3 separate regions of the Homo sapiens genome follow, and all the other regions are linked to region 3. Evidence: fine-mapped QTL for protein levels in blood plasma. A gene starts in region 3. Each other region holds a variant in brackets. All regions are shown on one strand. Distances are from middle to middle. Region 1 overlaps CSF1R (colony stimulating factor 1 receptor). Region 2 overlaps CSF1R (colony stimulating factor 1 receptor). Region 3 holds the start of CSF1R (colony stimulating factor 1 receptor).

Region 1 (5,930 bases), 23 kb after region 3:
ACATTGACTCATCTTATTTTACCCTCACAAGAAGCTGGAGGCAGGAAGTATACTAGTCAGTATCTTACCCATCAGGAAGCTGAGGCTCAGCAAGGTTAAAAAAAAAAACCCCAAGGGGCTGAGGGATAGGGTTGGCACTGGGCCCCAGGGGCTTCTGTCCCTAGAGCCCATGGCCTCCACTGCCTGCCTGCCCACACAAAGACCATGTGCAATGTGATCAGAAGCTGAGAGGACCAGGCCAGAGGGCTGTGGGAGTTCAGAGGTGGACGGACTTTTCAGGCTGGTGGGTAAGGGAGACTGCCTGGAGGAGGTGGCTTGGCATTGGTGGGACGGGCTTTGGAGGATGAGGATGCAGCAGGGGAGATGACACTAAGGGAAAGGGTACCTCTGGGGGAGAGGGCAGAGTGTGCAGAGGTGCAGGTGAGGGAAGGACCAGGGTGGGGTTGGGGGTCTGAAGGGTTGGACCCCACCCTGTCGGTCCAAGGCCATCAGTGGGTTTGAACAAGGGAGTGGTGTGATCAAGGACTGAATGACCCATCTTGTGTCCCCTTGGCTACCTTTTCTTCCCCACACCCCCTTGGGGCTTTTGTGAGAAGAGGGCTTGAAGTGGGCAGGGTGGGAAGGATGTTGGGGGAGCCCCAGGGGCACATGGATCGGGATCTCTACTCCTGCCAGCACTCAGCATGAGAAGGCTGCTCTGAGGGCAGCCCCGGTCAATACCTCCGGATCTAGGTCCAGCTCTGACACTGTTTTGCCATGTAACCTCAGCTGACTCGCTGTCCTCTCTGGGCCTTAGTTTCCCCTCTTATACCATGGGTCTGGGTGTTCTCTAACAGCCCCTCCTCCTCTGACATGCCAAGAGCCCACTGGTGGTCTAGTTTAAGCACCAGAAACTTGGACTTCAGTGAATCTGGGTCCAAATCCTGCCTCTGCCAAGCTCTGGCTATGGGATGATGAGAAAGTTGGTGTGTCTGAGTCTCTTCTCCATTTGTAAAATGGGATCATTAACAGCCTGTTGTGAGGGATTCCGTACCACAACGCACATAGAGGACTGAGCGGGGTGCTGGACGAGACAGTCTCTGTGATGGGAGCTGCACACTCTTGTCCCAGGAGGAAGTTCGTTGGGGAACCAGAGTTAGCTCATGCCTCTTGGGATGGTGGAAGGAGGGGGAGGTCTGAGGTCGGGCATCATCTCCTTGACTACACACCCAAAGCGGTTGTTTGGCCCAGCCCACCCACCTCCAGGGACAGGACCTTACTCACTCTCGGGGCCACCTGTTCCTTCTCTGAGCAGCTCCAATGTTTGCAAAGTTCTTCCTTACATGGAACTGAAAACTGCCTCGCAGTGCCCACAGAGCTGCCAGGACAGTCATGCAGAGATTCCAGAGAAGAGCCTAGGGCCCCCTGCGGCCCTTTCTGCCTTGGGCTGGCCAGCCCCCTTGGCTGTGGTTTAGGAACTCTGTATCCCCTCTCCACGGGACCATTTTTGGAACATGTCACCTCCACACTTCCTGTCCAGGAAATTCAGCTGCCCCTGGAGCCCATGCAAGGCTGCGAGAAGACTTGCAGCTACCCTCCTCCCCTACACCCATTCACAGACCCTTTAGCTCCAGGCCGAGGTGTCCACCCATGGGAGCGGAGGGGGCAGGATGGTCATGCCCGTGCTAAGTGCCTGCCCTCCCATCCTCCTCTGCCTTGCCCCATGAGGTTCGGAGCCTTGCCCCTTCACTGGGGACTCAGCCCAGCCTCTCCTCATTGCCCAGGCCTGGGGAAAGAAGTGGCCTGTCTGTGGGGAGTGTTTGTTCTGCCTCAGGGCTGAATCATCACCTTTCTGTCCCCCAGAGTGACCACAAGGGGGGCCGTGGGGGAAGAGAAAAGGGCAGGAGTCAGCAGGCTCCCCTGGAGGAGGAGGCGCACAGGGAAATGGCTGAGGCAGCAGGGAAGGGAGGGTCCAGGGAGGCTGCTGGAAAGACTACGATTCTGGGGGCTGGAACTGAGCTCTGAGGAGCAACAGGAGGGTCCCCAAAGATTCCACTGGGAATTGTTCAGATCTCCACCTTCCTGGGATGGAGAACATCCACTCACCCAGAACCAGCAGGCCTAGATGGGGAGGGGACCGGGACTTTGTCTCCATGCCCCCTTTGGTGGGGAGGATGGGAGGAAGGGAAGAAGTCAGGGGGTGGGCCTGGGGCTTAGGCCCATTGCAAGGAATGAATGGGGTGATGTGCTTCAAGCATCTAGCCCAGCGCCCCACTCCCAGGAAGAGCTCAGGAAGAACCCGCTGCCATCATGACAATTACGTCCACCCTTCTCAGGGAGCCTCGCCCATCCCCACCTCTTGATCTCTCACTCATAGTTCTTTGGAAGAGAGGCTGCCTCTGGGTAGACGCCCATGAGCCCTTTCCAGGGATGGCACAGGTGCCCTGGGAGGTTTACATGCCCAGCAGGGGCAGGGGAGGGTTCCTGAGGCAGGCAGAAGGCAGCTTGGTCCGCTTCCAGAAATTAGGAGCCTAGGATTCAGAAATCTGAGAATCCAGCCAAACCTCCATCCTCCTTGATCCCCTCCCTTTCAACAGTGCCCCCTGCCCAGCTGGGGGCAGGGAGGGGCTGACTCAGCCCAGCTGCAGAGGGACAGAGGAACAAGAAGTGGTAAGAAAAAACAGTCTTAGCCACAGAGGCTCCTAGAGATGGAAGTGGCCAGGAGAGGCTGAAGAATCCCCTCCTTGCCTTGTTGCTGTCTTTTGGGCTGGGAAGGCACCCACGGGCAGGATTTGGATCCTCAGAGGCTTGGGAAGTTCTTCTCCCTGGGTCCCGTTTCAGACTCTCTCCCAAGCTATAACGCAGAGGCTCTGAAGTTCACCTGCAGTCCGCCCTTCCGAATCAGAGCCTGGAAGTTAGTTCCTTCTCATTTCTAATTGCAGTCTTTTCTCTCTAACTACCAGCTAGAAGTTCTTCCTGATGGTTAGCTGGAAGCTTTCTCCCTGTCTCTCTCTTTAAAAATGTCCACATTTTATTTTTGATTCAGGGGATAGACGTACAGGTTTGTTGCATGCGTATGTTTCGTGATGCTGAGCTTTGGAATATGGATCCCATCACCTGCTACTGAGCATAGCTCCCATAGTTTTTCAACCCTCGCCCGCTTCCACCCTCCCTGCTCTAGTAGCCCCCAGTGTCTGTTGGTGCCATCTTTATGCCCATGCACACTCAATATTTAGCTCCCACTTATAAGTGAGAACATGCGGTATGTAGGTTTTCTGTTTCGGTGTTAATTTGCTTAGGATAATGGCCTTCAGCTGCACCACGTTGCTGCAAAGGACATGACTGGAATCTTCTCTCTCAACCAGGACTTGCAGCTAAAGGCCAGCCTCCTCCCTAGCACCGGTCCACACTTCCTTTAAGTTTCTAGCTCGGGTGCCCAGGGAAGGAGCCCAGCTGCAGGCACAGCCAAGCTTGTCCCATCCCCAAGGCCTGGCCGGAAAGAGTTGCTCTGCTGACCCAGGGCCTCAGTGTCCTCCACCGCCCCAGCCCAGCTTCCACTTTCCCCCTCAACTTGGTCTTCCATCAGCATTTCTT[G/A]TGGGCAACCCTTAGCATGGTACTCCCCCTCAGCAGCTGACCCCTGGGCAAGAAACAGGGGCAGCCATTCCTCCTCCCCACATCCCAGGGCTTGCCTCCCCTGGCTGGGTGGTAACAGCATGGAGAGCCTAAGGAAGGAAATCAGGTCTTTCCAAAGGTGCTGGTCCTCCAGAATCTATCTAGTGGGCAGCGTCTCTCTTTCTCTCTCAAAAAGGTAAAGTCAAGGCTGGGTGCGATGGCTCACGCCTATAATCCCAGCACTTTGAGAGGCCAAGGCAGAAGGATTGCTTGAGCCCAGGAGTTTGAGCCTAGTGAGCTATGATCGTGCCACTGCACTCCGGCATGAGTGAAGGAGCAAGACTCTGTCTCAAAAAAAAAAAGTCAGATGGCGACTCACCTGTGTCAAACTCTCAGGGTCTCTCACTGCCCGGCCAGGCATGGTAGCTCATGCCTGTAATCCCAGCACTTTGAGAGACCGAGGCAGGCAAACTGCTTGAGCTCACGAGTTCAAGACCAGCCTAGGCTGCGACAAAGCCCCGTCTCTACAAAAATTAGCCAGGTGTGGTGCCACATGCTTGTAGTCCCGGCTGCTTGGGAGACTGAGGTGGGAGGATTGCTTGAACCTCGGGGGTCGAGGCTGTAGTGAGCCAAGACTGCCCCCACTGCATGCCAGTCTGGGGGACAGAGATCCTGTCTTGGAAAAAAAAAAATCCCAAAAGGGAACCCACTCACCTTATCATAGCCCTCAAGGCCTTCCTGTTTCTGGAATCTGCCCCCCACTTCCCTCAAGCCATGATGGCTGCCTTCCTATAGCTCAAACTTGCCAGGATCATTCCCATGTCAAGCATACAGCATTTCCATGCACTGTTCCTGGAAAATTCTTCCTCTGATGGTCACATGGTGGGCTCTTTAGGGGCCTTCCCTGACTTATCTTACTTTATTTTCTTCATAGCACCACTTGAGAATCTCCTAGATACATGTTTATTTGCGTTTAATGCCTCTCTCAGCCACTAGAATGCAAACTCCATGGAGGGGCAGGGACTTTGTCCTGTTCAACTCTGAATCAGCGGTGCCTGACACAAATAGATGTTCAAGAAAGTATGTGGATGGGCTACTATTATTCAGCCTTAAAAAGGAAGGGAATTCTGACCTGTGCTGCAGCATGAATGAACCTTGAAGACATTATGCTGGGTGAAATAAGGCAATCTCAATAGACACATGCTGTGTGAGTCCACTGAGGTGCAGTGCCTAGAGCAGTGCAATTCACAGAGACAGCAGAATCATGGTTGCCAGGGGCTGGAGGAGGGAAAGGGGAGTTGCTTTTTAACAGGAACAGAATTTCAGTTTTGCAAGATGAAAAGAGCTCTGGAAACTGGTTGCACAAGGTAGAATGTAATTTACTTAATACTACTGAACCATACACTTAAAAATGGTTGAAATGGTAAATTTCATGTATGTTTTATCACAATTAAAATATATATATATATTTGGATGGGAGGTTGGGTGGGTGGATGGATGGGTAGATGGATGGACAGATGAACGGATGGATAAGATCTCAAGTTCCACCCTCCCTCCTGGCTCAGGAATTACCAGATTATCAGAGATATCAGGGCCCTCAGAGGTTGTCTTGTCCAAGGTCTTCAATACACAAATAGTGAAACAGGCTTGGAGAAGGGAAGGTCACACAACAAGGCAGAGTCAAGCAGGAACATGCTCTCAGTGCTATGTTCATGAGACGACCTCTCTCAGCCCAGAGCAGGCCTTGCCCTGCCTTCTCCCACTGGGCGCCTTGGGACTGCCCACACCCCTGCTCTTGGGGGTCAGAAACAAGGTCCAGGAACTGCCTGCCAGCCCCGACTGCCACGTGCTCCCTTCCTCTTCTGCAGAAGCCCAAGTACCAGGTCCGCTGGAAGATCATCGAGAGCTATGAGGGCAACAGTTATACTTTCATCGACCCCACGCAGCTGCCTTACAACGAGAAGTGGGAGTTCCCCCGGAACAACCTGCAGTTTGGTGAGATGGCAGCTCATCACTCCACAGCTTCCTATCACAGGGCCTGTGGGGGTTGCAGGGAGCCCATGGGCCCTTGGACAGAGGCCCTTTGGTGCCCAGGGACTTAAGGGACCTGTGTGCGTGGCAGGTAAGACCCTCGGAGCTGGAGCCTTTGGGAAGGTGGTGGAGGCCACGGCCTTTGGTCTGGGCAAGGAGGATGCTGTCCTGAAGGTGGCTGTGAAGATGCTGAAGTGTGAGTGAGGGGAGGGGATGAGGGAAGGGATGGGGGGTGGTAGATGCTGGGGGTGGGCTGGCCCTGGTGTCACAAGAGGCATCACACACATTTCAACCTGTTGAAGCCTGGG
Region 2 (8,000 bases), 15 kb after region 3:
TAACAGTAACTGCCTTCATAGATAGAAGATAGATAGATTAGATAGATAGATAGATAGATAGATAGATAGATAGATAGATAGATAGATAGATAGGAAGTACTTAGAACAGGGTCTGACACAGGAAATGCTGTCCAAGTGTGCACCAGGAGATAGTATCTGAGAAGGCTCAGTCTGGCACCATGTGGGTTGGGTGGGAACCTGGAGGCTGGAGAATGGGCTGAAGATGGCCAGTGGTGTGTGGAAGAGTCTGAGATGCAGGGATGAGGAAGAGAAAGGAGATAAGGATGACCTCCAGGTCTCTGGCTATGGTGATTGGGTGCAGGCAGTGGCAGTCACTGGACTCAGACCCTGAAGCAAGGCAGCAGCTCATCGGAGTGGGAGCAGGCTCTGAGACATTTAGGTCTGGCCGTGCCTCATGTGTTGAATGTTATGGGAGATGGAGGTGGCGAGGAGCATGAGAATCATGAGCATCACTGCCCCTAGAGTATGTGCAAGGCACTGGACTTGCAGCAGATTGTGAGCTCTGCTGTGGACCCCAATCTGCACTGGGAGCTTTGGCAGGGTAAAGGGGAAGAAGAGCAAAAGCACAAGAATTCAGTTACGGCTTCTAATCCTGTCTGCTTTCTAGTACAGGCATACAGTCATCACTCAAGAAATGTTTATGTTCATTCACACTTTGGGCCAGACACTGTTCTAGACATCGAGGATACAGCTGCAAGTGAAACAGATACAACAACCCCCGACTCATGAAGTGTGTGCTCTAGCTGGGAGTGGGCAAGCAATGAGCCAAGTAAATTATTAAAAAAACAAATTATATAGCATTTGCAGCTTCAGATAGGGTGTTCACCAAGGAAGATCTCACTAGAAAGCTGATATTTGAGCAAAGGCTTAAATTGCTGAAGGAGCAAGCCATGCGGCCATTTTGGAGAAGGGAGCTCCATCCTGCAGCGGGACTGTGCTTGCCATGTTCAGGGGACAAGTGGGCCAGTGTGGCTGCGGGGAGAGAGTGAGAAAAAAAGTGGTCTCAGATGAGGTCAGAGAGCTAAAGTGGGAAGGTGAGATGAAAGGAGGCTACCGCAGTGGTCCAGGCTGGAGCTGATGGTGGGTGGACTAGAGTGGTAATGGTGAAGGCAGCAGGAAGTTGTTGGTGTTTGGATGGATGAATGGACTAATGGATGGATGAATAATAGATAGATGGATTGTTGAGAGAGACAGAGAAGAGAAAAGCCTTGCCCCCAAAAGCTCACAGACTACTTGGAGAGAGAAGAAAGCTACCTGGAGGGAGAACCAGATGCATGAAGCAGTGCAGATGTGGTGCCTAATGAGTGTGTAGTCTGGAAGGGCAGCAAAAGTCGAGTGGAGTGAGAGGTTCCTGTGTCCTGGAGCACTGAGTAGAGACTCCCTCATGGGGGTGAATCTTAAAGGATAAAGGGGCCTCTATAATGAAAAGGAGGAGGATGGGATTTCTGGTAGAGGAAATTGCTTGAGCAAAACCTCCAAGGTTGGAATGACTATGGTGTGTTCAGGGATGTTAGGAGACCCAGATGGGTGGAGCGTTGAGTGTGTGTGTGTAGGAAGGAAGAGGGGAGGTGGCTGGATGAGCACAGTGAGACCTGATTTGATTGAGAGCCTTGAACGCCACGCTGAATAATGGAGGCAATGGGACTCCATAGAGGGCTTTTGAGTAGACATATATCAGTGTAGAAGGGTGAATTTCAGATTTTTAGACAGAATAGAGTAAGGAGAGGAGCTCTTAGAAATCATCTAGTCCAGGGCTTGTGGCAGAGCCCTGAGGTTTTAAGAAGGCATGTCAGGGGCTACCATGACAGGCACGGAGAGGCTGAGTGAATTGGGGTTCTTGCCACAATTCCCTTGCCTGAGATTCAACAAGAGCAGCTGTATTACAATCTGTGCAAAATGTCATTAGGAGAAACTAGTTAGTAGCTGGGCGTGGTGGCATGCAACTGTTGTCCCAGCTACTCGGGAGGCTGAGGCCGGAGAATCGCTTGAACCTGGGAGGCGGAGGTTGCAGTGAGCAGAGACTGTGCCACTGCACTCCAGCCTGGATGACAGAGCAAGACTCTGTTTCAAAAAAAAAAAAAAAAAAAACTAGTCAGGACTCTTTCAGATACAAGTAATAGAAACCAACTCAAACTGGCCTAATTAAAAGGATTTTTTTCCTTATAGCTAAAAAGCTCATGGATATCAGCTTCAGGAACACTTGGATCCAGGTGTTCAGCTGATGCTGGAAAGAATCTATGACTCCCCAACTCTCAGCCCTGCCAGGAAGGCTTTCCCCTTGTAGGACTCCGACTATCCGCCTTGTAGTATCTGATCCAGCAACACCAGTAAAATGAGGGCTTCTCTTTTCCCAGAGTCTTAACAAAAATCATGGAATTGAGTGTTATGGACTCATGGATTCATGGTAACCCAAACCAATCACCGGGCCAGAGGGGACAGAGTACCCTCACTGGTTGGCCTGGGTTACACACCTACTCCAGAGCTATATTTGGAAGCCGCATTGACTAATTTATGACCAGAAGAAAGGGAAATGGATGAGGACACGTGAAATTGTGTGTGTATGTGTGTGTGTGTTTTCTTGCTGCCAAAAATTTTTCAAAAACTTGGAAAATCACAGATATATTCAATCTCTTCATTACACAAATAAGGAGATGGAGGCACAAATGGGGATAGGGATTTGCCCAGGTTCTCCTAGGGCTTCAGTGAGAAAAGTTTTGATCCAGGGATTCTGAAGGGGGTGGTGAGAAGAGGGGTGTCAGAGGACCTGTCTTGGGTGGTGGGGACTATGTACCTGTGACATAGCTGCTCAGGGACTGGATCAATGGGTGGATGACAAAATGGACAAATAAACAAGGACATCTTCCCACTAATGCCAGATGCTTGTGTGTTCTGCTTTCCAGAGAGTGCCTACTTGAACTTGAGCTCTGAGCAGAACCTCATCCAGGAGGTGACCGTGGGGGAGGGGCTCAACCTCAAAGTCATGGTGGAGGCCTACCCAGGCCTGCAAGGTTTTAACTGGACCTACCTGGGACCCTTTTCTGACCACCAGCCTGAGCCCAAGCTTGCTAATGCTACCACCAAGGACACATACAGGTACCACTTATCAGCTCCCGTCTACACAGCCCGACAACCAGATGGGGTATGCTTCAGCAAGCATCAGGACGCTTGGCTCATGTCCCAACCTTGGTGTATGACCTTGAGCAAGTCCCTGCCCCTTTCTGGGCTTCGCTTTCCCTGACTTCATGGAATCCCAATATTGGTCATCTGTGTTTGAGATCTAGATGAAATTGACCTACCTCTCCATCCCACATCCTTGGGATAGTCAATGCCCCACCCAAGGATTCTACCATTTCTTGGGAGTGTGCATTCTCATTGGTCCCTCAAGAACCCTCAGCCTCATTCATTTTCCTCTCTTGGGGCCAATCCAAATGCAGAAAACAGCCCCACTCATAGACACACTCCTGATAATGACTGCACAAGTTATCTGCTACATACAAAAGCTTGGAGGGAGGGGAAGAGGGAATTAAGATCACACAATCACAGATACATGAAATGTTCTTTAAAGGATTGTGATCACCCAGCCCCAAGAATTTCTCACTGGCTGCTCTTCTCTGTAAGCTCAAAACTCTTCCCATGAAGTGCAATCTATAATAACTCCACACCCCTCTTCTTCCGTCTCTCCACTCCCACAATCCTGTGTATTCCACACACATTTTAGAAATCTTTTTCCTGTCTGCTTGTGAACTGTGTTCTTGGGGTCTTGCTTTCTCATCCAAAGTGGCTTAAGCAGGTAGGTTCTAAATAAGAAAGCTTTGTGCCTAAGAGGAACACTCATACCAGGTATATCAGGTATTAACTCAGGTATTAAAATAGTTCCTTCTTTTCTTTCTTTTTATTATTTTTTTTAGATGGAGTTTTGCTCTTGTTGCTGGAGTGCAATGGCACAATCTCGGCTCACTGCAAACTCGGCCTCCCGGGTTCAAGTGATTCTCCTGCCTCAGCCTCCCGAGTAGCTGGGATTACAGATGCCCACCACCACACCCAGCTAATTTTTGTATTTTTAGTAGAGACAGAGTTTCACCATGTTGGCCAGGCTGGTCTCGAACTCCTGACCTCAGGTGATCTGCCTGCCTCGGCCTCCCAAGGTGCTAGGATTACAGGTGTGAGCCATCGTGCCTGGCCTGAAATAATCATTCATACCCTGCCCTTTCAGAGGGAGACAGTACAGCTTAAGGGCAGCGAATACGTGGTGTGCATGCCACACTCACTCTCATTCTTGTTTCTGCAACTCTGTTCTGCAGAGTGTAGATGCGGCCTCAGAGTCCTCCTCAACACAGGTCCCAGGCAGTATTTCCAGCATAGTTGGCTCATGAGAGATCTGTTTGTCATCCCTGTGTGGATCCCTTAGACAACTTCAAAACTCTTTGGGATTCTCGTTCTAGCTCTGGAAGCCCAAACCTCATTGATTCCCACAATCTTGCTTGTCAATTGTCAGAAGCAACAAGGATGTTTTCTTGTCCTCATCTTCCTCCTCTCAGTTCCCTTCTGGTCCTTTCTGGCCAGGTCTCTGTCTTCCTCTCATTTAAAGCAGAAGTTCTGAATCTGGAATGTGTAGGCCCTTTGGAGGGGGCTGGTCCATGGATCGGTTTAATGGGTCCATAAGCCACAGAGACATTGAGGAAAGGAACACGAGATCCCCTAAAACACAGTAGTCTGGGCCCATTCAGCACAAGGCAGACAAGCCTGGACACCAAACAGCCACAGAATTTTAGTTCATGTGATGGGTTGTTCATAATGGTGACTTTCAATTATCCAAAAAAGTCAAATTATTTTTAGTTAAAGGGGTTAGTTATCTCAAGAAGTGACCTGGGCAGAGGCCTTGTATATGCCCAGGGTCTGGCTGGATGAGACTGCTCTCTGAATACCATAGATTTTAGTCTAGTAGTAGCTGCAGACATTTCCCAAGCAAGAACTGGCCATTTGCTATAATTTTTAAAATTTTATTTATTTTGACAGTGAACTGGGGGACTTTTTAAAAAATGTATTTATTACCTAAACAACACATGTTCATTATGGACAAATTGTAAAATAGAGATTAAAGAAAGAATAAAACAAAAAATTTCCCAGAATCAGCCAAAGATGATTTTTATTGTTAGTTTTTGCTCCAGGGCCTTTTCTGTAATAAAGGGTACCATTGAATTGAGTGCCCACAAAGATTCAACTTCTGTGTCAAGCACCCTAAAAAGGTCCTTTAATCCTCAAGCCAAGCCTGTGAATTAATAACCATCGATATCACTCTCACAGCAAAGGAAGTGAGGGATCAGAGAGGTTAAGTACTTGTCTAAGATCACACAGCCAAGAAACAGCAGCACCAGGACTTGAACCCCAGTCTCTGCAGCAACATGGCTCAGAACCCAGGGCCCTACATCCTGCCTCTTGTCTCTTTCTCAGTCCCTCTTGGCAAGGTTGGCACTTCAGGGATTTGTAGCAGGGATTGCAGCTTTCATGAAAGCTTAGTCCAGTGACAGTGGTCAACGTAGGCGACCTGTGATAGGCCTCCCAGCACCTTGAAGACATCACCTCTATTAAACCTCGGGAAAAAAACACTTTCAGATAAGAAAACCAACTAAGGAAATGGGATTGGTGGTTTTTGCATGTCTCAATGGCACCCTGTCTGAGTATCTGGCTTACCCAAGGCCGTTGGGCCCTGAATATTTTACCAAAAATAAAATAAACCCCTTTAAGGCTGTTATCTGACTGCAATCCTGGCAGGGGCCATACTAGGCTGGGGCTCACCAACACCACCTGATTCTCTCCTGCAGGC[A/G]CACCTTCACCCTCTCTCTGCCCCGCCTGAAGCCCTCTGAGGCTGGCCGCTACTCCTTCCTGGCCAGAAACCCAGGAGGCTGGAGAGCTCTGACGTTTGAGCTCACCCTTCGATGTGAGTGCTGGGGCCGAGCGCCACCTGGGGCGGAGGCCCTGGGACTGCCTGGAGGGATGGGGTTGACTGGGGCAGGGCACAGGGAAGTAGGTACTGGGAGATTGGGAGGTGGCGGGGAAAGTGTGACTTGGGGCCTCCTCCTTTCTTCCTCAGACCCCCCAGAGGTAAGCGTCATATGGACATTCATCAACGGCTCTGGCACCCTTTTGTGTGCTGCCTCTGGGTACCCCCAGCCCAACGTGACATGGCTGCAGTGCAGTGGCCACACTGATAGGTAAGTGGGCTCCACTCACCTCCCTCACCTGGGCTCAGGGGCTGGGCACCCTGTGAGTGGGAGGGACATGCTGGCGCTGGGAACCCTGAAGCTCTGAGCCACATTCTGCTTTTGCCAGGTGTGATGAGGCCCAAGTGCTGCAGGTCTGGGATGACCCATACCCTGAGGTCCTGAGCCAGGAGCCCTTCCACAAGGTGACGGTGCAGAGCCTGCTGACTGTTGAGACCTTAGAGCACAACCAAACCTACGAGTGCAGGGCCCACAACAGCGTGGGGAGTGGCTCCTGGGCCTTCATACCCATCTCTGCAGGTGAGAGGGAGCCTTCGCACCCGCACCGCCCCCCCGCCCGCCCCCCGCCCCTGCTCCTTTAGGCGGCTCCTCCCCCACCCCCCACCGAGGGAGCTGGGGTTGGCTCCACCTTTGGAGCAGATCCTAGCAGTACCAAGGTCCACCTCTCTGGGCCAGTCCAAGCCCCTCCTGCCTGGCAGGTCCCCCGAAGCAGTAGGACGGGGTAGTCTCTGAGAAAGCAGAGAGAAAGCAGCCTGAAGAAACTGGCCCCCACTCTTGTCCCTGCACTCTAACTCATGCATCTATTCACAAGTATGTGCAGGCATTATGCACCGTGTGCCAGGGACGTGCCCTATGCAGGGAAGCAGTGCCTCCCCAGAGCTCAGAGGCTGATGAGGGAGGCAGGCAATGAGCAAGGAAACAGTCCATCTCCAGCTCGGGGCCAGCTAAGGACGGCCTTCTCCAACTCTCCCCTCTTGCTCCAGACACAGTCTATCCATTTGAGGTTGCTGTGCAAGAGGCTGCCCCGGGGGATGATGCCCGGCCCTGTGCACAACACAGGCTGCCTCTCTGCTTTACACAAAGGCTCCTTACCAGCTAGTTCTGTGATTCTCAGAGGCCCACAGCATCCTCAGGCTTTTGACAACCAGGCTCTGGCACCCACTGTGTGCCAGACCCTGGCATCTGCCTGGCTCAGGGGTGGTCACTCACGTCCCCAGCTGCTGGCCTTGGAGCAACTGCTACCAGGGTCCAGCTGCAAGCAGGAGCCTGCGGCCGCGCTGGGCCTCACTGCTGGAGGTTGTATATTATAATAAAGCCAACATTTTGTTGAAGGCTTCTGCTGCGCCAGGCACTGTGTTAAGCTCTTTGTGGGGATTATCTCGATTAACTCCTACAAACCTAGGAAATAAATAGAATTTTCCCTAGGCTCAATGTCACACAGCTCCCAAGTGGCACAGGTGAAACTTGACTGCAGATCTAAGTTACTGATCTGAGCAAGGAAGTGGAAATTATGTTCTCCAAAACATCACTAGAACTAGTAGTATAGATTCTGGGAAGAGGAGACTCAGGGGCCACAAGCCTGGCTTGCTAGACCCTCAGAAGGGCTGTATGATTCCAAAGGCATGTGGAGAAGCTGCAGGGGAAATGCAGGAGAGGAAGGTTGCAGTGTGACCTCCAGAAGGCCTTTCTGAACGAGCTTCCTGGAGGTGTAGTGCATGCAAGCCATGGCTGGGCACCAGGCCAGGCCGCTGCAGAGAGGTTTCTTGCACTGGCAGAGGGTGAGACTGCATGACCCCAGAGGCTCCCTACCCCCAGCCACAGGAGGCTGTGACTCTGGACAGGGTTTGGGGCTGGGCATGAGCAGAGCTGAAGAGGCCGTCCTCTCTGCCTTTCTCGGGGAGGGTGTGCAGGAGAGGCTCCAGAGGCTTCCAGTGGAGGATGCTTCATTCAGTCAACAAGCATTTATTGAGCACCCAC
Region 3 (9,142 bases):
ACAAATACAATGCTGGGCAGCCATCACCTTTATCTAGTTCCAAGACATTTCATCACCCCAAAACAAAACCACCTCCTCATAAGCAATCACTCCCCATTCTCCCTTGCCACATCCCCTGGTAACCACTCGTCAACCGTCTGCCTCTACAGGTTTACCTGTTCTGGATGTTTCATATAGATGGAGTCGTATGACATTTTGCTACTGGCTTCATTGACTTAACACAGTGTTTTCAAGGTTCATCCACAGTGTAGCAGGTACCAGTATTTCATTCCCTTTATAGCTGAATAATATTCAATTGTATGGACACACCACATTTTGTTTAGCTGTCAACTGTTTCCACCTTTTGGCTACTGTAAATTGTGCTGCGTTGAATATTTGCGTGCATGTATTTATTTGGGTCCCTGTTTTCCATTCTTTTGGTTTTACCTAGAAGTGATATTTCTGGATCATATGACAATTCTATGTTTAACTTTTTGAGGAATTGTCAAACTGATTACCATAGCAGCTGCACCATTTTTCATTTTCACCAACATTGTACAAAGGTTCCAATTTCTCCACATCCTCACCAACACTTGTTATCCGATTTTTTTTATTATGATGATCCTAGTAGATATGAAGTGGTATCTCAAGGTGGTTCTGATTTGCACTTCCCTAATGACTAATGATATTGAGTATTTTTTCATGTGCTCTGGAGAAATATCTATTCAATGTTTTGCCTGTTTTTTAAAAAAATTATTTTAGACTCGGGAGTAGATGTGCATGTTTATTACATGGGTACATTGCATAATGGTGAATTTGGCTTCCAGTGTACCCAGTACCCAAATACTGAACACTGTACCCAATAGGTAATTTTTCACTTCCTTTTTGCCCTTTCCCCTTTCCTTCTATCCTTCCACTTTTGGAGTCTATTCTTTCCATCTTTATATCCGTGTGGACCCTTTGTTTGGCTTCCACTTATAAGTGAGGACATGCAATATTTGAATTTGCCTATTTTTAAATTTAATTGTTTTTTTGTTGTTGTAGGCAACACTACAACTTTCATTCTTTTTTAAAATTTATTTTCCCATAAATATTTATTAATTGTGAGGGACAATAGAGTGGCTTTAGCTACATATTGCGTGATTCTACATACATTCTTTAGCTACACACTGTATGATTCCATTTATATGACATTATCCTGTAAAGCACAAAGACATTGTGGAAAAGGCAAAACTGCAGGGATGGAGAACAGATCCGTGGTTGTTTGGTGTAAGGGGTTTGGGGAGGGCTTTACTATAAAGGAGCAGCATGAGAAACATTTTCTAGAGTGATGGAGCTGTTCTATATCTTGACTACAGTGGTGGTTACATTGTTATATATATTTGTCAAAACTCATAGAACTATGCACCAAGAGTGATTTTTGCTGAGGAAACACTACAACTTTCATTCTGTATATATTCTGGATATATTTATTTATTGTGGATATAAATATTCATTCTGTGTGTTTTTATTCTCTTGACAGTGTCCTTTGATGCACAAAAATGTTTAATTTTTATTATGTCCAATTTTTCTTTGGTTGCTTGTGCTTTTAGAAACATATCTGAGAAATCATTTCCAATTCCAAGGTCATGAATATTACCTTTATGGTTTCTTTTAAGGTTTTAATAATTTTAGCTTTTATATTTAGGTCTTTAATTCATTTTGAGTTAATTTTTATATGTGATGTAAAATAAGGATTCAACTTCATTCTTCTGCATGTGACTATCTAGTTCTTTTAGCACCTATGTTGAAAAAACTGGTCATTCTCCATTGGATGGTCCTGCCACCCTTGTTGAATATCAGTTGTCCATGAATGTGAGAGTTTACTTCCTGACTCTCAATTTTATTCTATTGATCCATATAGTTATTCTTATGCTGATACCACACTATTTTGATTTCTGTAGTTTTATAGTAGGTTTTGAAATTGAAAAGTGTGACTCCTCCAAGATTGTTTTGCATATTCAATGTCCCTCGAGATTCCATATGAATTTGAGAATCAGCTTTTCCATTTCTGCAGAAAAAGGCTGTTGGGATTTTGATAGGGATTATATTGACCCTATAAATCAGTCTCACTTTGAGAGTACCGCTGTCTTATTAAATCCTCCAACTTATGAAAACAAGGTGGTTTTTCATTTATTAAGGTCTTCTAAATTTCTTTCAACAGTGTTTTGTAGTTTTCATTGTAAAGTCATGCATCTCCTTAGTTTATTCCAAAATATTTTATTTTTGATACTATTGCAAATTAAATTGTTTTCTTAATTTCCTTATTGGAGTATTATCAGTACTATAGAGTTACGTATGTTGATCTTGTATCCTGCAGGTTTGCTGAATTTGTATATTAACTCTAATAGTTGCTTTTTGTAGATCTTTTAGGATTTATCTATATATAGGATCATGTCATCTGTGAACAGAGATAGTTTTACTTCTTCTTTTTTAATTTGGATGCCTTCTGTTTCTTTTTCTTCCTGATTGCTCTGGCTAGGACTTCCAGTACTATGTTGAACAGAAGTGGCGAGAACAGGCATCTTTGTCTTGTTCCTGATGTAAAGGGACCAGCTCTCAGTCTTTTACCATTGAATTAGTTGTGCTTTTTCACATGTGCCCTTAATCACGTTGAGGCTGTTCCCTTTTATTGCTAGTTTGTTGGGTGGGTTTTGTTTTGTTTTGTTTTTAATGAAAGCATGTTGGGTTTTACAGTTACATCAAGTGACATGATCATATGAGGATTTTTTTCATTCTATTAATGTGATGTATTACCCTGATTTTCATGTGTTAAACCACTGTTGTATTTCTTGGACAAATCCCACTTCATCATGGTATATAATCATTTTAATATGCTGTTAGATTTGGTTTGCTGGTGGCTGGGTGCAGTGGCTCACGCCTGTAATCCCAACACTTTGGGAGGCCAAGATGGGCAGACTGCTTGAGGTCAGGAGTTCAAGACTAGCCTGGCCAACATGGTGAAACCCTGTCTCTACTAAAAATACAAAAATTAGCTGGGCATGGTGGCGCATGCCTGTAATCCCAGCTACTCGGGAGTTTGAGGCACGAGAATAGCTTGAACGCGGGAGGCAGAGGTTGCAGTGAGCCGAGATTGCTCCACTGCACTCCAGCCTGAGTGACAGAGTGAGACCCTGTCTCAAAAAAGAAAGAAAGAAAGAAAAAAAAAAAAAGATTTGGTTTGCTAGTACATTTTTGAAAATTTTTGCTTTCTATATTCATGCATTTGTATTGGTCTGTAGTTATCTTTTCTGGCAATGTCTTGGTCTAGCTTTGGTACCAGAAAAATGCTGGCTTCATAGAATGAGTTGAAAAGGATTGGTATTAATTCTTCTTTAAATGTTTGGGAGAATTCACCAGTGAAGCCATCTGGTCCTGGGCTTTGCTTTGTCGGGAGGTTTTTGATTACTGATTAAATTTCTTTTCTTGTTATAGGTTTATTTGGATTTTCTTTTTCTTCTTGAGTCAGCTTTGATTGACATTCATGATTGCTAAAGGTTCAAAACACTTTTCTGAAAAAGAAAGTACATATATACACTCATAAATATACATACAAACACACACATACACACCACACACACACCTGAGTACACGGGAATGATCATTTTCCTGGATCAATGTTATATCAGGATTTTTCAATTTCAAGAAGGAACTTTAGGCTGGGTATAGTGGCTCATACCTATAATCCCAGTACTTTGGGAAGCCAAGGTATGCGAATCACTTGAGCTCAGGGGTTTGAGACCAGCCTGGACAACATGGTGAAACCCCATGTCTACCAAAAATACAGAAATTTGCTAGGAATGGTGGCACATGCCCCTGTAGTCCCAACTACTCAGGAGGATGAGGTAGGAGGATGGCTTGAGTCCGGGAGGTGGAGGTTGCAGTGAGCCGAGATCACACTACTGCACTCCAGCCTGGGTGACAGAACCAAACCCTGTCTCAGAAAAAAAAAAAGAAAAAAAGAAGAAGAAATGACCATGTTCTTTAGAGATAAGAAGTAAAATACTAAGCGAATCAACTAAAAGAGGTAAAAGCAATTGCCTCCAGGAAAAGAGGGAGCAAAGGAATGCTATATATTTTAAGAATTATGCAGAACAATTAGATTCTTTGTAAAAATAAATAAACAATGTAAGTAACGCACAAAAGATAGTTTTATAACCAGACTGCTGGGATCCAAATCCTATCTCCACCATTTGGTAGCTGTTTGACTATGGACAAGCTTAAGGCATTTGATCTCTCTGAGCTTTAGTTTTCCCATCTGTGAAATGAGAATGACAATAGTACTTACCTACATAAAGTTTTGCAGTACTAAAGGAGACAGTGAATGTAAAAGGTTTGGCTAGTAAATGTCCTGTAAAAGGAAGCTTATTGCCAATATTATCAGGCTCTCCCAGACCAACCTGTATACAGGAAGAAAACAAACTCCGTTTCTCCTATAGTCTCACAACACAAAATACTTCTGACCCCAGATGTAGAGGATGGGGCATATTTCCCCATACACCAAGCAATCAACCAATTGTTCAGATTCTGCAGCAGACACGAATCTGGTGCCCTCCGATTCAATTTGAACACTATATTTACCTAGAGATAACGTCAGATCTCACAGCTTGAAGGCTTGAGCCAGGAGTTTGAGGCTGCAGTGAGCTATGATCGAGCCACAGAGCTCCAGCCTGGGCAACAGAGTGAAACTGCGTCTCTAAAATAATAATAATAAATTTTTAAAAGATATGCATTACTTTGGAGATTCCAAGGATTTTAGGAGTTGTAAGCCAGGACATCAGGGTAAAGAAAAAATATATATGTCACAATATCATGCAACCTAACTTCTCTTTGGGATCTGCCAGAGCCACCTGATCACTCTGAAGACCCTCATTTGTGCTACTGACTAACGGTCTGGCTGCTCTTGGACATGTCTCTTCTCCCAAGACCCCTTGAAGATGGCTTTAGAAGGGCCCCAAACTTAGCTAGCTCCCCCCAAGCTCAGGCTGGCCCTGCCCCAGACTGCGACCCCTCCCTCTTGGGTTCAAGGCTTTGTTTTCTTCTTAAAGACCCAAGATTTCCAAACTCTGTGGTTGCCTTGCCTAGCTAAAAGGGGAAGAAGAGGATCAGCCCAAGGAGGAGGAAGAGGAAAACAAGACAAACAGCCAGTGCAGAGGAGAGGAACGTGTGTCCAGTGTCCCGATCCCTGCGGAGCTAGTAGCTGAGAGCTCTGTGCCCTGGGCACCTTGCAGCCCTGCACCTGCCTGCCACTTCCCCACCGAGGCCATGGGCCCAGGAGTTCTGCTGCTCCTGCTGGTGGCCACAGCTTGGCATGGTAAGAGCAGAACGGGGGGTGGGGGACTTTGTTGGGGTGTGATGGAGAAGACCCCTGTGAAAGGATTCAGTCCTTGCCCCTCACTGGGTGTCCTCAGGCTGTTTTAGTCTCCCCAACACTGGACTGCAGGCTTGTGGGTATCTGCTTTGGAGAGGTAGTGGGGTGAAAAGAGATGGGTGTGGTGGAACTGGTCCACCTGGTGCTGTGGATCTGTCCCAGCTCTGCCAGCGACTCACTGTGTGTCCTGAGCAAGCCTCTGATACTCTTGAGGCTTCAGTGTCCACTTCTATTCAATTGCAGGTGTTGGGGGCAGGGGGACAGTGATAGACTAGACCAGAGCAGTGCTTTTCATACTTTCCTGTGCATACAAGTTACCTGAGGATTTTGTTACAATGCAGATTCAGACTCAGTCGGTCTCAGGTGCGACCTGAGATTCTGTATATCCAACACACTCCTGGGAGATGTGAGATGCCGGCACTGCTGGTCCAGACCTACACTGAGTTGGGAGGACCTGGAGAGCTCCTGATGGCTCTGGCAGCTCTGCCAGCCTGTGATTCGATGATTCTATGCAAGATCTGATTTGGAAGGGCCTGATAGGGGTGGTGGTTCTTCCTTGGGTGGCTTGTGTAAGGGGTCAGAGGGGAGAGACAAGAGGTTGGCCTCTCTGGCCCAGGGCTCAGGAGAGGGGAATTCGGGGTGAAATAGGTATAGGGCTAGAGGAGGGATTGGGAAGAGGCCAGTGAGGGTCTCCTGGACCAGAGCCCTCCCAGACACAGGCTGCCAAGTCTCAGGAGGTCCCCAGGCTGTAGCAGTTCTGCAGAATTTCCATCTGGGAGGGAACATGACTAGAGGTGAGGGGCTGCTGTGCTTGGCTTGTTGGCCCAACAAACACATTTCTATTGCCTGCTTATTCAAAGGGACCTTGGGGGAGGATGGGGATTGAAGGGGAGAAAGGACAGCCTCATACTGGCCTCTTCACAGAAGGACCCTAAGGCCGTGGCGCTTCTGGTCCCTGATGAGGAGGAGATGGCCCACTGACCATCCTTCTCTGGCCCAGGCAATCACACTGAGCTTGAGTATTTGGGTTTTTTTTTTTTTTTTCCTGAGACAGAGTCTCTCTCTGTCACCAGGCTGGAGTACAGTGGCACAATCTCGGCTCACTGCAACCTCCACCTCCCGGGTTCAAGTGTTTCTCCTGTCTCAGCCTCCCAAGCTGGGATTACAGGCATACACCATCATGACTGGCTAATTTTTGTATTTTTAGTAGAGATGGGATTTCACCATGTTGGCCAAGCTGGTCTCGAACTCCTGACCTCAGGTGATCCACCTGCCTTGGCCTCCCAAAGTGTTGGGATTACTGGTGTGAGTCACGGCGCCCGGCCTGGACTTCTTATTTTGCAATGTAACTTACATGCAGTAGAAAGCACAGGTTCTTAAGTTCAATGAGGTCTGACAAATGCACACACAGTGTACCCGCCACCCCCTTCATCTCAGAGAGTCCCACAGGTTTGATTTCACTGCCTTGTCCTATCCTTACACCCACAACCTGCCTGTGGGGCAAAAACGGAAAAGTATCTGAGCCAGGTCTCAATTTAATTTTATTTTTTTTATTGAGATGGAGTCTTGTGGCCAGGCATGGTGGCTCACACCTGTAATCCCAGCACTCTGGGAGGCCGAGGCGGGTGGATCACAAGATCAGGAGTTTCAGACCAGCCTCGCCAATATGGTGAAGCCCCCTCTCTACTAAAAAATACAAAAATTAGCCGGGTGTGGTGGTGGGTTCCTGTAGTTCCAGCTACTCAGGAGGCTGAGGTGGGAGAATCACTTGAACCCGGGAGGCAGAGGTTGCAGTGAGCTGAGATCATGCCACTGCACTCCAGCCTAGGCGACAGAGCAAGACTCCATCTCCTTCCTTTCTTTCTTCCTTCCTTCCTTCCTTCCTTCCTTCCTTCCTTCCTTCCTTCCTTCCTTCCTTCCTTCCTTCCTTCTTTCTTTCTTTCTTTCTTTCTTTCTTTCTTTCTTTCTTTCTTTCTTTTTTCTATCTTTTTGAGACCGAGTCTTGCTCTGTTGCCCAGGCTGGAGTGCAATGGCATGGATCTCGGCTCACTGCAACCTCCGCCTCCGGGGTTCAAGCAATTCTGCCACTCCTGAGTAGCTGTGATTACTGGTGCCTGCCACCACACCCAGCTAATTTTTTTATTTTTGGTAGAGACAGGGTTTTATCATGCTGGCCATGCTGGTCTCGAACTCCTGAACTCAAGCGATCCCCCTGCCTTGGCGTCCCAAAGTGCTGGGATTACAGGCATGAGCCACTGTGCCTGGCTTCAATCAATTTAGAAGTTTATTTTGCCAAGGTTAAGGACATGCTGGCGAGAAAAAAACATGGAGTCACAAAAACATTCTGTGGTCTGTGCCATTCTGGATGAATTCGAGGGCTTTAATATTTAAAGGGGAAAGTGGGCTGGAGGGGAAAAGGGGAGGTTGTGGTAATCCACATGTTGCAAAAGAAAAGCAGCAGGTAGGGGAACAGTCAATTATCTCGGTTCAGTAAATTGGCTCTTTACATAGGGAAAGTGAACATAGAGGAGCTGCCTGTGGGATATTTTACCTTTTATCTGTCGCTATCTGCTTAGGAATAAAAGGCAAGGCAGCTTCTTGCATGACTCAGTTTCCAGCTTGATTTTTCCTTTTGGCAGAGTGAATTAGGGTCCCAAGTTTTTATTTTCCCTTCACAGGGGCATGGTGTGTGGGAGGGGGGCCAGATGGTTTTCCAGGGTCCAGTCCCAAGAGAAAGAAGAGATGGGGAGGCTGGAAACCTAAGTTTTCAGCCCAACAGACCAATGATGAGTGGATGAGGGGCCACTGTGAGGAGACTGGGGATGGTATTGGAGGACCCTAGAGAGAGAGGGGGGCTCTCTCTTCATTACTGCGATGAGATCCTGGGCTGAAGAGGGGCTGTGTCCAGCCTTAGTGTGCAGTGTGTGTGTGTGTGTGTGTGTGTGTGTGTGTGTGTGTGTGTGTGTGTGTGTTGGGAGAGAAGAGTAGAGATTGGGGCACATTCTGGAAGTGATGAGGGAGGGGCTTCCAGGCAAGTGGGAGCTAGTGGAGAGGTGTGGGGCATGGGGAGAATTGGGGAGTGGAGATGAGAGGGGGGAAGAATGGACAGGCACAGAAGGGGACCTCAGTTAATGTTCATAAGCCCATGCCCCCACCCCGAGGAGGATGGGGGCCAAGCCGGCTTCCTTCCCTGCTAGCCAAGCCAGCAGGGGAAGTTGGCTGCGGAAGTTGCGGGTATCAGCCTTATCCTGCGTGAATACCTGGGACAATAGGATAGGACAAAATAGGGCAGACACCGCTCCCTGACCACATTTCCTGGAGGCCAAGGCAGGGTCTAGAGAGACAGGCTGGGGGAAGGGATGGGAGAAGCCCACTGTAAGGTGTGAGGCAGGTGTAAAAAAGGAACAAATGGAATCACAGAATCCAAGGTTAAAATCTTGAGCGATCAGAGTTGGCCCAGAAGGGACATTAGAAATGTAGCAATTAAAGCAGGTGCCCAGGGCAGGAGTAGTTCTATACATCATCTCACTCAACCTTCAGCTGAAGTTTTTGGGGTGGGAGCTGGGATTATTCCCATCAGACAGAAGAATAGCCTGAGGCTCAAAGAGGTTAAGAAACTAACCCAGCTGGTAAGGGAAGAACCAAGATCCAAACCCAAGTTGGTGTGAGCCCACACTCCAAGCTGTTTCCTGCTATAAAACCCCGGCCTGGGGGCCCTAGATTGCTGCAGCAGTGATAGGGCAGCCCCAGCTC

Evidence for each region. PIP is the posterior inclusion probability: the model's chance that the variant is causal. The UK Biobank Pharma Proteomics Project read protein levels with antibody pairs (Olink). The fine-mapping took linkage between variants from a reference panel, not from the people measured, so its PIPs are less certain.
Region 1: its variant is fine-mapped to the plasma level of the CSF1R protein (UK Biobank, PIP above 0.99).
Region 2: its variant is fine-mapped to the plasma level of the CSF1R protein (UK Biobank, PIP above 0.99). The variant lies in the coding sequence of CSF1R. If it changes the protein, the assay may bind it differently, which can mimic a change of level.

The regions. Positions count from the first base shown.
Region 1 is chr5:150,061,379-150,067,308 of GRCh38, reverse strand. It overlaps CSF1R (colony stimulating factor 1 receptor), which reads left to right. Exons shown (of 21, transcript NM_001288705.3): 11 at 5,460-5,586; 12 at 5,714-5,818. Among named protein-coding and RNA genes, the nearest start is that of CSF1R, 22 kb to the left of the region's middle. RefSeq lists an enhancer at 299-348 and a silencer at 2,299-2,474. The variant G/A (reference allele first, on the strand shown) is at 3,574.
Region 2 is chr5:150,068,415-150,076,414 of GRCh38, reverse strand. CSF1R (colony stimulating factor 1 receptor) reads left to right here. Exons shown (of 21, transcript NM_001288705.3): 6 at 2,922-3,114; 7 at 5,844-5,959; 8 at 6,113-6,233; 9 at 6,352-6,542. Among named protein-coding and RNA genes, the nearest start is that of CSF1R, 14 kb to the left of the region's middle. RefSeq lists an enhancer at 7,768-8,000. The variant A/G (reference allele first, on the strand shown) is at 5,846.
Region 3 is chr5:150,082,569-150,091,710 of GRCh38, reverse strand. It overlaps CSF1R (colony stimulating factor 1 receptor), which reads left to right and starts at 5,157. Exons shown (of 21, transcript NM_001288705.3): 1 at 5,157-5,332. The coding sequence starts at 5,284. RefSeq lists an enhancer at 5,070-5,099 and a promoter at 4,852-5,284.